Linked DNA regions of Homo sapiens. The protein of the gene in region 2 interacts with the protein of the main gene of each other region in a pairwise test. Each region holds a gene or a part of one and is shown on either strand. Other genes may lie near its edges. The genes, in order: XRCC4 and APTX.

Region 1 (7,295 bases), on a different chromosome or scaffold from region 2:
CTCATCAGTATACAAACATATTCTTTCTTTTATTTAAAAACAACAAACAAAAATACTTTTCTTTATCCTACTTCCTCCTCCAGCTGCCGCCCCATGTCTTTCCCATTTTTTACAGTGAAATTTGTTGAAAGTATTGCCTGTCTCATCTCCAGTTCTCTCCTCCCATTCCCTTTGAAACTCCTATTCTCTCCTATCCCCTTCCTTCACCAATCCAGTGAATATGTTCTATTAAGATCCTTAATAACGTTTGTATTGCTAAATCCATCAATCAGCAGGATACCACATTTATATTTTTGCCTCTTACCTCCTGGCTGCTCCTTCTCAGTCTTATTTGCTCAGTCATAACCCCTTCATCAGCAAATCCTGCTGCCTCTAAGCACACCTAGAATCTGCTCCTTGCTCATCGCCTCTCCATCACTCTGGTCTAAGCCAGCCTCATCCTTCACCGAATTGTTGTACTAGCTTCCCATCTGTTATATCTTCTTCTGCATTTGTCATCCTATAGTCTATTCTTAACACAATACACAGACTAATCCTCTTGAAATTTGAGTCAGATTATGTCACCTGACTGTTTAAAATCCTTCAGTAGTTTCCAAGTTAATTCAAAGTAACAGGAGAAGTTCTAATGGTAGCCTATATCGCCCTACACGTGATGAGGTCCCATCATCTCTCTCATCTCATTTCCTAATTCTCCCAGTCTTCATCTTTCTACTTTATCCAGATTACACTCTATAGTATTGCTTAAACGCGTCAGGAACTTTGTACTTAGTGTTTTTTTGTTTTTGTTTTTGTTTTTGTTTTCTGTTTGGCATGGTCTTCCCCAAGACAGCATGTCACCTTCACCTTCTCACTGAGGCCTTTTCTGATAGTCTGGCTAAAATCATAACCCTCATCCTTATTCTCACCCTGACCTTTCTAACGCCTTCTCTGGTTTATTTTTCTCTTTAGCACTTATCAACCTAACATATTTTATATTTATTCATCTTATATGTTTCCCTGACTACAATTTAAACTCCACAATGGCACAGATTTTTGTGTTTTGCTGTCTAATGCATAGCAAAGTTTCTAGTACATAATAGGAACTCAAAAATATTTTCTAAATAAATAAATCAAGCATTTATTTTAATAGTATTGGTTTTAGGTCAAAACCATCTAAGTATAAAATGAGTTCAGAGGCTCCTGTTTCCACCGTCACTAGGAAATCTATAAAACATTTTAAAAAATAACTCATGGGTTTAAACACTTGCTGGGAACTTGATCCAAAGGACTGAGTAAGTCATAGGTACTTTGTACTAAACTGCCATTTTTCCCCTTCTCTTTTCCTCTATTACATCTCACTTGTTGCAATCTTTTTTCTGAAGAGTGAAAGAAGGCCTCAACTTCAGTATAATTTAGAGCATTCTTGATTACTCTGCTCCAGTGGCCTATTCATGGCTTTAGCTAAATAAGATCTCAAATGTTAAAGGCAACCAGCTTTAAGCTGATGATATTTAGCATAAAGGTGTTTCTTCCTCATTGCTTATGCTTTTCCTGGTTATATTTAACCAGGAATAGTATACCTTGGAGTATATGTGTATGAATGCTTGCTCACACTGCTGTGCTAATGAGTTGCTGCATTTTACAAATAATATTAAGTTTTAACATTAAAAATTTGAGTTTTTAAAATAAAAATGCTAAAGAATTTTCATAGAATAAGGTCTTTCACAACATTTTTCCATTATGGTTTCTTGTCATTAGAATAAGAAGCCCAAATAAGATATTCAACAGAGGAGATAAATGTATGTATCTCTTACCTGAAGCCAACCCAGAGAGATCAGTTTGGTTTTCACTTTCCTCATCAGTACTCTCATCATAGACTGGATCTCGGTCAGCAGTCATTTCAGAACAGATTGCAGTTTCCCTAGAAACAGAGAAAGGTAGAATTATAAATAACTGGCTCACCCCCTGCTAGGCAGCAGATTTATCAGTAAGCAATTATAGAAAATATTCCTAGAAAAAGATTCTAATTAGACAAACATATTGAAAATATATATGATTTAGATGAAAGCATCTTAAAACCTATATATTAACTCTCTTAAGAACAAGTTTCTCTTTTACCTAATTTTAATCTGAATTTAGTACTTATTATAATTAATATTAAATCAGTTTCTTATCAGGTACTATTCTTCCATCAAAATACTTTTTCTAACAAATTATCTCTGTGAGTCACAGAGTATTTAACATTTTACTAATCTCAGAACAGTTCGCATTTCATTTGATCTCTGCAAAACCCTAAGATGGGTATCTTTACCTTTATTATGAAGATAAAGTGACTTGTCCAAAGCTATAAACTAATAGGTATGACTGCAAGACCAGTACCTGTGCTAGGACTAGCTGATATCAAATTTTTTTATACTACGTCACTGGTAATTCTGTACTTCTACTAAGATTCAAAGCAACAGACCCTAACTTGTATTTGCTAATGCGTAAAAAAGTTATAATCGTCGAAAGCCGTATCAGCCATTTGTCACTTAGGATTCTTCCATAAAAATCAAGTACATATGTACTTTCAGAGAATATGTGAAAGAAGAATAAAACTGATAATCACACTCTAATCAGATAAAATAAGTGCTCCCTGGAATTTAATATTAACCACTTGATTCTAAAGTTAATCATTGCCTAGACATCAAGATTACAAATATGCATCCAACTTTTGTAGTTCTGCAGATGAAAGTTTTTTTTTAAATTAGTATGTCTTACTAATGTCTAAGAATTAAATAATACTTTAATAAGCCTCATGTCAGTTTTTTAATTTAAGTGTAGGTGACACAGTTGAGCAGACATAGAGAGACCATGCTGAGAACTCTCTAGCCCATGGTACCCCTATCTAACAGCCTGAACATCCACATCCAGACTACCAAATTATCTCATATGATCAAAAAGTTGGCATCTAATGTTCATTAACTTTGGGAAGAAATTCCACTTAAATGTATTCATCTGTCATCCAAAAACAAGATAGCGAAAATACCCTTCTTGTTTGATGTCCTTTTCTCGTTCTTGAGCTGCATTTAATAATTTATTATGCAAACTTCTGATTTTTGTTTTCTTCTCATTCAACACCAGAATAAACCGCTTATAAAGATCAGTCTCCAAAGCTTCCTTAGCACTCACACATTTTTCAAATCTAAAAAAGTAAATAAGTAAACAAATTAGTCATGCAGTTCTGCTTAGCATTAACATAATTCAGCCTAATAATCAAGAAGATTTCAAGGAAAATACAATTAAAGATTATTTTCACATATGCTTTCACTGACTTGGAAGTTTTATAAAGATGGTTAAATACACAATTAGAAATTATTGGTTATTAATGTAATTTATTTACTGAGATAAGGATCAAAATTGAAAACTGATACAAATAAGCCTTTAGAAAATCAAAATGCCTAAAGATAATTTATTGATACATATGGTTTATTTACAAAAGAATGTTTTTATGGGATAAATTTCAAACAAGAGTAAATGTAGCCTGTTTCCTCAGTACTATGTTAATATTACTATAAAAGCAACTACAATCTTATTTTGTGATAAGGCAACATAGCTAATTTGTCTGATTTATCTACTAGACAACAAACTGCTCCACAACAAGAACACGACTTATCCAGTTATATTCTTATAAGCGAGCACCACACACACACACACACAAATACATATAGAAATGCAATACACATACCCAATGAAAGTATTCTACTTGATATATTCAAGGAGAGATTAATAAAACAGCAAATGTAAAACACTACATATCTTCAAATTTAGATACGTAAGACAAAACATACAAAATTCTCTATTGTTTTTAATTCATCCCATACTGCTCAAATGAGCTAACAAGGGATTGTATTTATTTTAAGCTCCCAAGAGATATATAAAGAAAGCAAAATAGCTGAGGTTGTATATACTTAATATATGCATACACATACATGATGAATACATTCCTATTTTATTGATTCAAATACAAATTATTTTATGTATTCTTTTCAATGTTGTTTCATACTGCTTATTTACATTGTTGTTGTTTTACAGGTATCCTAGTATTTTTATACTGTACATAAACACACACACACATATATACCAGTAGTAATATATATGTGTGTGTACATATATAGACACACACATATATATTTCAGTGAAATTAGAAACACAAATGTCCAAATTAGATAGCTTTTATATACATGCCCTTAAACTTTCAACAATCTACCTATCTAGAGATGCAAAGAATTAGAACGTATCATAGGATAAAAAGGAAAATATGGCAATATATTCTCTGGGACCAATTTCAGCAAATTCTTACAGCACAGTCTTTGCCAAAGATGTGAACTCCACGAAAGCAGACAGCATGTGTGTTTTATTGGCCACTGTATCCTCAGTGCCCAGCATAGTGTTTAGCATTCGACAGATGTTTGGTAGGTTCTTATTAGACAAACGAATAAAGTGAATAAATTAATATGGACATCTTTTTGGTTTATTTATTTTCCCAGTGGTTTATTCGTTTTCCCAGCTTTTCTGCAGAGTTATTACAAGGCCTCAACAGTGCTTTAGTTTTTCTTTTCAATATCCTGTTCTGCAGCTTCCTTGGTCCTTTTTGCCCAGAGGCCAAAGAGCCAGGCATTGATATGGCAGGTTTTTTGTTTTTTTTTTTTTTGAGACAGACTTTCGCTGTTGTTGCCCAGGCTGGAGGGCAGTGGCACGATCTCCACTCACTACAACCTCTGCCTTCTGGTTTCAAGCGATTCGCCTGCCTCAGCCTCCCGAGTAGCTGAGATTACAGGCACCTGCCACCATGCCTGGCTAATTTTTGTACTTTTAGTAGAGACAGGGTTTCACCATGTTGGTCAGACTGGTCTCGAACTCCTGAGCTCGTGATCCATCTGCCTCAGCCTCCCAAAGTTCTGGGATTACAGGCGTGAGCCACCGCACCTGGCCTGACGTGGCAGTCTTGAAGTTCTCTTCCTCCTTGGTGATGACTCTGGCTTTCTCCTTCGTATAGGTATTTCATATGAACATTACCGGTCCTGTCAGTGTGATGGCCAATTTGAGTTCTTCAGTGTAGCTGTCTCTCTTCTCGGAGGCTGAGGTTTCTAGAGAAGGAGGATAAGCTTCCAGCAGTACTCCTACAGCTGTTATACATTGGCCTGCAGGGACTCAGTAGACTTGTCTCACCTCCTTGGATCAATAGAGAAATCAATGGTCCAGGCCATCTTCTTGTGGATGCTGGCCACCCTTAATTCTTCCAAGCTGAAGCCCCTACCAGCTTGTACTTGGTGTGAAACCTCATGTGGGGCATTTTACTAGGGGCCAGTGGGTCCAGATACAAGGCACCGGGCAATGCAGTGGGCTTGCCCAGTCCCATGTCTGTGGCTCTTCCTTGCAGGCTGGGTGAACCATATTGCTATAGGCCACTGCCAGTACTTACAAAAGTGGGGCTTCAGGATTATGCCATTCCTGCTGGGCACCATGGCTGACTATAGCCCTCCAGCAAAGAAGAAGAGCCAAGGAGAATGGCTAATATTGACATCTTATAAGGAAACAGAAAAACAGTGATTCCGAATATTGTATTTTTTCCCTCATTTAATAGCTATTCACCATTGTAAAAGTAATGTTTTTCATCTTCAGCTTTTAAAAAAACTGTGGCAAATAATATCAATCTAACAGTATTCCCTTCATTAAGCAAAGTTCTCTGAGAAAGAAGTACACGAAAGATGTTAGAAAAAAACTGAATATTGAAAAGGAGCTAGCAATATTGATAGTTTATTTTAAGCAAAGACATGTCACTACATTTATATTTCAGATTCAGTGTTACGTAAGCATGATATTCTTATCTTCCTATAATATTTTCAAAAAAACACAACAAAAAACTTTAAAACATACATATTACTGAAATACCTGAGTATATAATAACATACTTCAAACATATGCAAAGTAAAAACCAATATGTGAAAACATATAAACAAATATATTACAATTTCTTATATTAAATTTTAGGAATGGTAACCAATTAGTAATTTATCTGGTTTAAGTCCATATTTAATTTCCATATAAGTCACTTCAATAATTCTTGATTGAATGATGATGTGTACTTAACAACTAACAAGCTAATTCCCAAACCTTTATTAAAATTAACATTTGGTATGACACATTCAAAGTGAAAATAAATATGAAAATGAAATATCATATAATATTCCTAAAGAATATTGTTAATCTTAAGTAACCAGTATCAGATCTATGTTGTCAAAGGAAACATTTCTGTGACAGGAAAACACAGTCAATAGAATGAATGGTATCATGTGAGTTAACCTTGCTTGGTTTCAGCAAAGCTTTAGGATTTTTTTGCAACCAAACTTCTGATCATCAAACTGGACAACACTTCCTAGAAAAGTGGGGGAGCGGGAGCTGACTGGAGAAAAAGTATTAGTGTGAACAGTTGCATGACATGAATTTACTCTTAACTTTTAATTTTTCAAGACTCAGAGAATGCTATCCTTTTATCCAATAATCAGTAACTAAGAGGTATGTCGTATCATTCCCACCTAATTTTTAATGCCAATCCTCTCCTAGAGCATTATGATGTTACTATGCATTCCATTACGTGCTTCCTGTCAAGCTTATGCCTCAAGAAATTGGACAGGAACTGTTAGGTGAGAACATTTAGTGGAGAAGAGACATGGGATTCACTGCTAAGTCTGGTGACACTAACAAAAAGCCCATGTACAACTAGATCAGACCACACTAGTCCAAGGATCAAATCCAGGCAAATCTCAAATTGGGACGAAATCACAAATAACATCAAACAAGAAAGGTCTAATGATACTTCATCCTTTCTACAATAACTAGGAAAACAGAACAATAATGCTAAATTTAATTAGCAACCTAGCACTGAGGTATCTAAAACCTTGGACAAAAAAATAGTAATTTTTTTTAAAAAATTAAAAGGATAAAAAAATACAAAAAAATACTGAATATTCAAAATAAAATGTCTCTGGGTGGGAAAACAATCTAAGAATAACATGTCAAAACAATAACAAACTAGGAGGAAAAACACAACAATTTCATGCAGAAATAACACCAAAAATGAAACAACAGATTAAATGATAGCTCAAAATAAAATAATAGATATATAAATGTGAACATATGGTATTTAGACACAGTGCAGTAATCCTTAAATTAATAATCAGTTCTGGCCAAAATTATATCTGGCCCAGGTCAGGGTTGTATGTCAAAAGAAAGTCTGAATAGAGTTGGGAAGACAAAGAAAGCTAAAAAGAACT
Region 2 (5,808 bases):
ATAGAAGAACTATGGATGGATGGACTAATGACCTAAGGATTACAATCCTGGAGTGCAGAAGGAGCAGAGAAAAGAGATGAAAGATGTTGGGAATGAGAGATGGACAAAAAGGGCTAAAGGAACTGGCTGATCTCAGGGAAATCAATGAAATGCCACGGAAAGCTTTTGATCAGCACAGGTCCAAGGCCCCTGGGTTCTATGGCTTCTGCTGTTAGTCTTGCATTTATACTGTTCAATTGATAAGAAAAATAATGAGTTGATGCATCAGAATCAATACCAACTTTGGATAGTGCCCAGGAACCATTGTAGAATATTAGATGCTCATCCACTAAAGGGGCATAACAATAGCACGTAACCTCATAGAGTTATGTACAGTGAGAATTCAATGAGATCACTTGAGTACAGTGTTTAGCATAATGCAGGACACACAGGAGTCAGACAAATGTGAGCTGCTATGATCATTAATTATATAATTATTACTATACCTATGTTCACTAAGTAACCACTGTGGCATCTTGTTTGTTTGTGAAAGACATTGAGGTCAAATGTCTCTATGGACTGTGGCTTTTTCTCTCCAGAAGAAGCTTTTGTTAAGGGTGTTTCCTTTTTTCTCACAACTTGAGTGAAAAGTCACATCCCCAAAGATATCCACAATTTCATCAAACCCAACTTTTTAGTTTTCCCTTCACCTTTAGTTCTAATATTATCCCAAAAAACAACTGAATACAACTGTTTTATCCAAATTTATTCTCAGGGAAAAAGAAAGTAGTGGCTCTACGCAACTTTTTCATTCACCAACCACCTTTCCATGCATCAGAACCTATGCTGTGATTGTTAGCTGAACTTCAATAGTTTCCACCTACTTAAGAGAGATGCCTCAAACAAATTAACTTTATTTTCAGACAACAGGTCCAAGAAGACTTCACAGCTCAATCATGACGAACATGTGGCTGTTTCCTCACAGCCAGGAACCCTCGGTATTAGAAGAAAACTCCAACCCCCCACACCATCATCTAGCCTCTTTTCTCACTGTGAAGAACTGATGAGACAGAATTCCTGAGAAGGGAACATTTAGGTAATCTGGGATAGAAGGGCATGGAAGGACTGGACAAACTAAGCCTCCCCATGAAGGAAGGGAAAAGAATATTACAAAACAGACTAACAGAAAACAAGACCCATCAGTATCTTCAGGATAAACAAGAGGCCACTCTAGATGCTCTGATTAAAGGTTGTCCATGCCTACAGAGGCGGAGGATAAATCTAAGAAACAGAAATGTATAACCAGCCCAATGCTTCCATACTCTGCATTAGGTCAGTGTGAACATGGCTTTGCTCCCAATGGTCAGACCTGACATGGGTCCTTCTGAAGATGGTGGGTCAGGTATATCCCAGCCACCCTCACCAGAGAATACATCTATGACAAACCCAAATTCCTAATCCTGAAGTACTTTGAGCCACTCTACATTGTGGCCACTCAATAATAGAATAAATTTGTGAAAAAGCTGCATGTTTTAATTTAGGAAATGAGTAGAAGTTCACAAGCAACCCAGAATAGGTGCCAGCAGTTTGCTCCAGTGGGCCACACCACAGCAGCAGCTCAGGCTCTGCAGAATCACTGTGTCCAGTGCTTCCTGAGATGTTCTTTCAGCTGAGGAATGGAAGGCAGCAGCTGCTGGCACTCATGACAACGAAGGGGCAGCTTCAAGAGCTCAGGCATCCCATCTCGGACAGTTACTCTACCAGCCTCTTGTACCATCTCGATCACAGCTGCAGGCAAGGAAGAAAAGTCAAATCCCAGCTACTCTGGAAAACCAATATGAGATACCAAAAAAAAAAAAAAAAAATCAAAAACGTGACTCCAATCAGTATGCCAGGCCAGGTATTCTACAGCTCCGTAAGCTTAGTTTAGACTTCCCTCAGGCAAAATGAGCTTAATCAGATTATAAATATGAGCAACCCACCTTTGAAATAATACACTCCTTCAGGACACACTCTAGGCAATCCATGTTACTCTGTCAAGAGCTCATCAGAGTGCTTTACCTCTGGTTGGCCCTTGGTAAATGCCAGCTGCCATTGTGAACACCCCATCAATGCTTAAGTTCTTACACACCAGGAAATGCTTTCCTGGTGTGTAAGAAAGCATCACACACCAGAAAATGCTTTCTTCTACATATACACAGGGTTCCCCCTGCTAATTCACCACTCCTGACAGGAGGCAGCCCCAAAGCTCCCACCCAACTGATGGCAGAAGAGACAAAGAATTGTCCACAGCTTTCTTATCCATGAACTCCACTAATTCTCACGGCAGCCTTTAAGTCCCCTTTTGTCACAATAAAACACTGACCCTGACATAATAGCTTTCTAGGTCCCCCAAGAAGACAACTCACAGCAAAGTGGCAATAATACTACAATCCAAATAATCCAGTTTCTTTTCACAGGGCTCGCTTTATAGGGAACACAAAGTTGTACATAGGTTTTTGAGGTCAGACTGTTATTCAGGGAAACAACCAAATCAAATATAAGAACAGCTCAGAAAATGAAACAAATGTGAAAACCAAGGAACACTGTTTACCTTGTGATTCTAGGAAGTATTCTGTATTGAAAGAATTCCAATGTTTTTTGTTTTTAAGGCAAGGAGAATCAAAATCCTGGCTGATCACATGAAGATGTACATGGCTAGTTGAAAGAAAAAAAAACTGAGCATTAAACTCTTTAACAACTATGGCTTAATCAAAATGACAAAGAGTATGAGTACATTGTATATTCATACTATTGAATACTCTTTGAATATTCATACTATTGAAGTGATAGTGTGTCCATTTAATTCAATTGATTCATTCATTTACTTAAGAATATTTAATGCTCAATAAGTATGTACTATGGCCAAACACTGTTCCAGGCACTGAGACTTTAGCAAGAAACAAAATGGGAAAAGCCTCTGCCCTTATAGAAATTGTACGCTAATGAGGAAAGACAAATAATAAATAAGCAAACAAATAAACAAACAAAAAAAAACTTAAAGAATTAACATTGCCAAGAAAAAATAAACAAGGAAAATGGGATAGAGTGCCCAGGGGTAGAAGCTGCCCTCTTTAGTTAACAGTGTTCAGGGAAAGCATCTCCCGGGAAGTGATTTGAACGGAGACAGCACCCAAGCAAGCTAGGTCTGTGGGAAGAGTGTCTCAGAAAGTGAGGAGGCCAAGAGCAGGGGCCCTGAGATGAGGAAAAGCTCAGTGCAACCAAGAAAGAGAAAGAAGGTAATATGGCCCAAATGTATGGCCTGAATTGTTGGAGCCAAGCAGCAGAAACGAGGCAGGAGCCAGGTCATAAAGCCTCTTAAAGGTGACAAAGGGTTTGCATTCTATTCTGAATCTACTGGGAAGCCATTGAAGGATTTTCAGCCGAAGAGTGCTACTATCTGATTTATACTCTTTTTTTTTGTTAACAATAAAAATTGAATTATAAAATGGACCACAATTTAAAAGTGGGCCTATTTTAATTTTATTATTCTTAAATTCATTCTTTTGAAAATGCAACCAGGTGCGGCGGCTCACGCCTGTAATCCCAGCACTTTGGGAGGCCGAGGCAGGTGGATCACTTGAGGTCAGGAGTTCAAGAACAGCCTGCCCAACATGGTGAAACTAACTACTAAAAATACAAAAAACTAACTGGGCGTGGTGGCAGGTGCCTGTAATCCCAGCTACTTGGGAGGCTGAGGCAGGAGAATCACTTGAACCTAGGAGGTGGAGGTTGCAGTGAGCTGAGATCATGCTACTGCACTCCAACCTGGGTGACAAAGTTAGACTCCATCACTAAAAAAAGAAGAAAAAGAAAAAGAAAATGCACTTTATTTTTGAAATGATAAAAGATTTAACTATGAGCTGACAAAGTAGAGGTCGGCTGACATTAGTGGGTCAACTCTTCATGTAGATATTTAAATGCTGTTTTTTCTGTATTACATCAAAATGATTTGCAATAGGAAATTGGAAAAGGGGAGCAAAGCAGAGTGCAAAGCATATACTGAGGTCTTTCCATGGGTATCTGATAGAATGCAGATTCAGCACAATAAAATGTAGACTGCAGCAGTGGCCTGTAAGTGTACTCCAAGCGTACCGTAAGAACCTATGTAAAAACCATTTTTTTCTTATTCCTAACAGAAAAACAAATTTTGTTTTGTTTAAACAATAAAATGTAATGGAAAGATCTGTACTGTAAAACTACTTGCTATAAACTATCACAAGGACAGAAAACCAAACACTGCATGTTCTCACTCATAGGTGGGAACTAAACAATGAGATCACTTGGACACAGGGCAGGGAACATCACATACCGGGGCCTGTCAGGGGGGTGGGGGGCTCGGGGAGGGACAACATTAAGAGAAATACCTAATGTAAATGATGAGTTGATGGGCGCAGCAAACCAACATGGCACATGTATACCTATGTATCAAACCTGCCTGTTGTGCACATGGACCCTAGAACTTGAGTATAATAAAAAAAAATAAAAACTACTTGCTGTAGCCCATGTGTTCAGTTTGTTCAACAACCTCACTCACACATGATGAATTACATGAATAGAAAGTCACCAAATAAGACTCAAGACAAAAAAATTATCTATCAACCTCCATATGAAAAGACCACAGCTTTAATGATTTATACAATCCTTAAGCTTAATATCTGGTCAGTATAGGTTTCCAAATCAAAATCAAGTCATAAGCTGTTACAATAACTGCATTATACTAACATTTTCTTTCCAGTATTTCTTCCTATGAGGGAAAAAAATCATCAGAAGCTTTCACTCTTGAAAAGCGTCCTAAACTAAAACAGTGTTCTTCTCCAAAACGAAAATACTCTACAAACAGTAAATAAAAGCTAAGCTAATTTCAACAGTCATATTTCCAAAAGTAAAATCTATTAAGTACAATACACCTGCACAAGAAATTACAAGAAATGATTACAGTTACAGATGCAAAATAACATCTAATTATCCCAGGCTTGTGAACATAATAATTAAAATCAAATTCATATGCTAGTCCAAATATTATGTACAATTTAGATAAGCTGGTCAAGTATTATTTGAATATACACCATATTTGTTAAACCTAAAATTATATTACCTTTTCTTGTCCTTTAATATTTGTAGATACACGCCAATATGAAAAAAAATGTAATTTCCATTTATGTATTAACAGAGAATTTCTACTGCACATGTTTTAAACCGTTAAAAAATAAAAAAGTCAAGGTACATTTTCACTTAAGAGATAAAAATAAATTACCAGAATTTTAATTGATAAAAGTTTCATATCAATTTATAAAAATGACCCAAGCACGTGGCTCATACCTGTAATCCCAGCTACTCAGGAGGCTGATGCAGGTGGATCACTTGAGGTCAGGAGTTCAACATTGGCCTGAGCAACATAGTGAGACCCTCATCTCTAAAAAATTGTTTTAATCAGCCAGGCATGGTGGCACACCCATAGCCCCAGCTACTCGGGAGGCTGAGGCAAAAGGATACCTGGAGCCGAGGAGTTCAAGGCCGCAGTGAGCTATGATCTTGACACTGTACTCCAGACTGGGAGAGAGGGTGAGACTCCCATCTCTTAAAACAAAAACGAAAACAAAAAATGAATAAAAAAATTCATTTATAAAAATGGGGGGGAAAAAACCTGGGTGCAGTGGCTCACACCTGTAATCCCAGTACTTTGGGGGGCCAAGGCAGGTGGATCATTTGAGGCCAGGAGTTCAAGACCAGCCTGGCCAATATGACAAAACCCCATCTCTACTAAAAATACAAAAATTAGCTGGGCGT

What was found.
Region 1: the proteins of APTX (region 2) and XRCC4 interact in binary tests that used the Homo sapiens proteins (3 or more experiments, as listed by UniProt).

Annotation. Positions count from the first base shown.
Region 1 is NC_000005.10:83,199,420-83,206,714, reverse strand, and holds part of XRCC4 (DNA repair protein XRCC4), read right to left. Parts: intron 3,164-7,295; coding exon 3,008-3,163; intron 1,901-3,007; coding exon 1,794-1,900; intron 1-1,793.
Region 2 is NC_000009.12:32,971,886-32,977,693, forward strand, and holds the end of APTX (aprataxin), read right to left. Parts: intron 5,318-5,808; exon of another isoform or gene 4,504-5,317; intron 2,677-4,503; coding exon 2,573-2,676; intron 1,804-2,572; coding exon of another isoform or gene 1,799-1,803; exon of another isoform or gene 1,768-1,798; coding exon 1,613-1,767; 3' UTR 731-1,612; downstream 1-730. UniProt on the Homo sapiens protein: DNA-binding protein involved in single-strand DNA break repair, double-strand DNA break repair and base excision repair.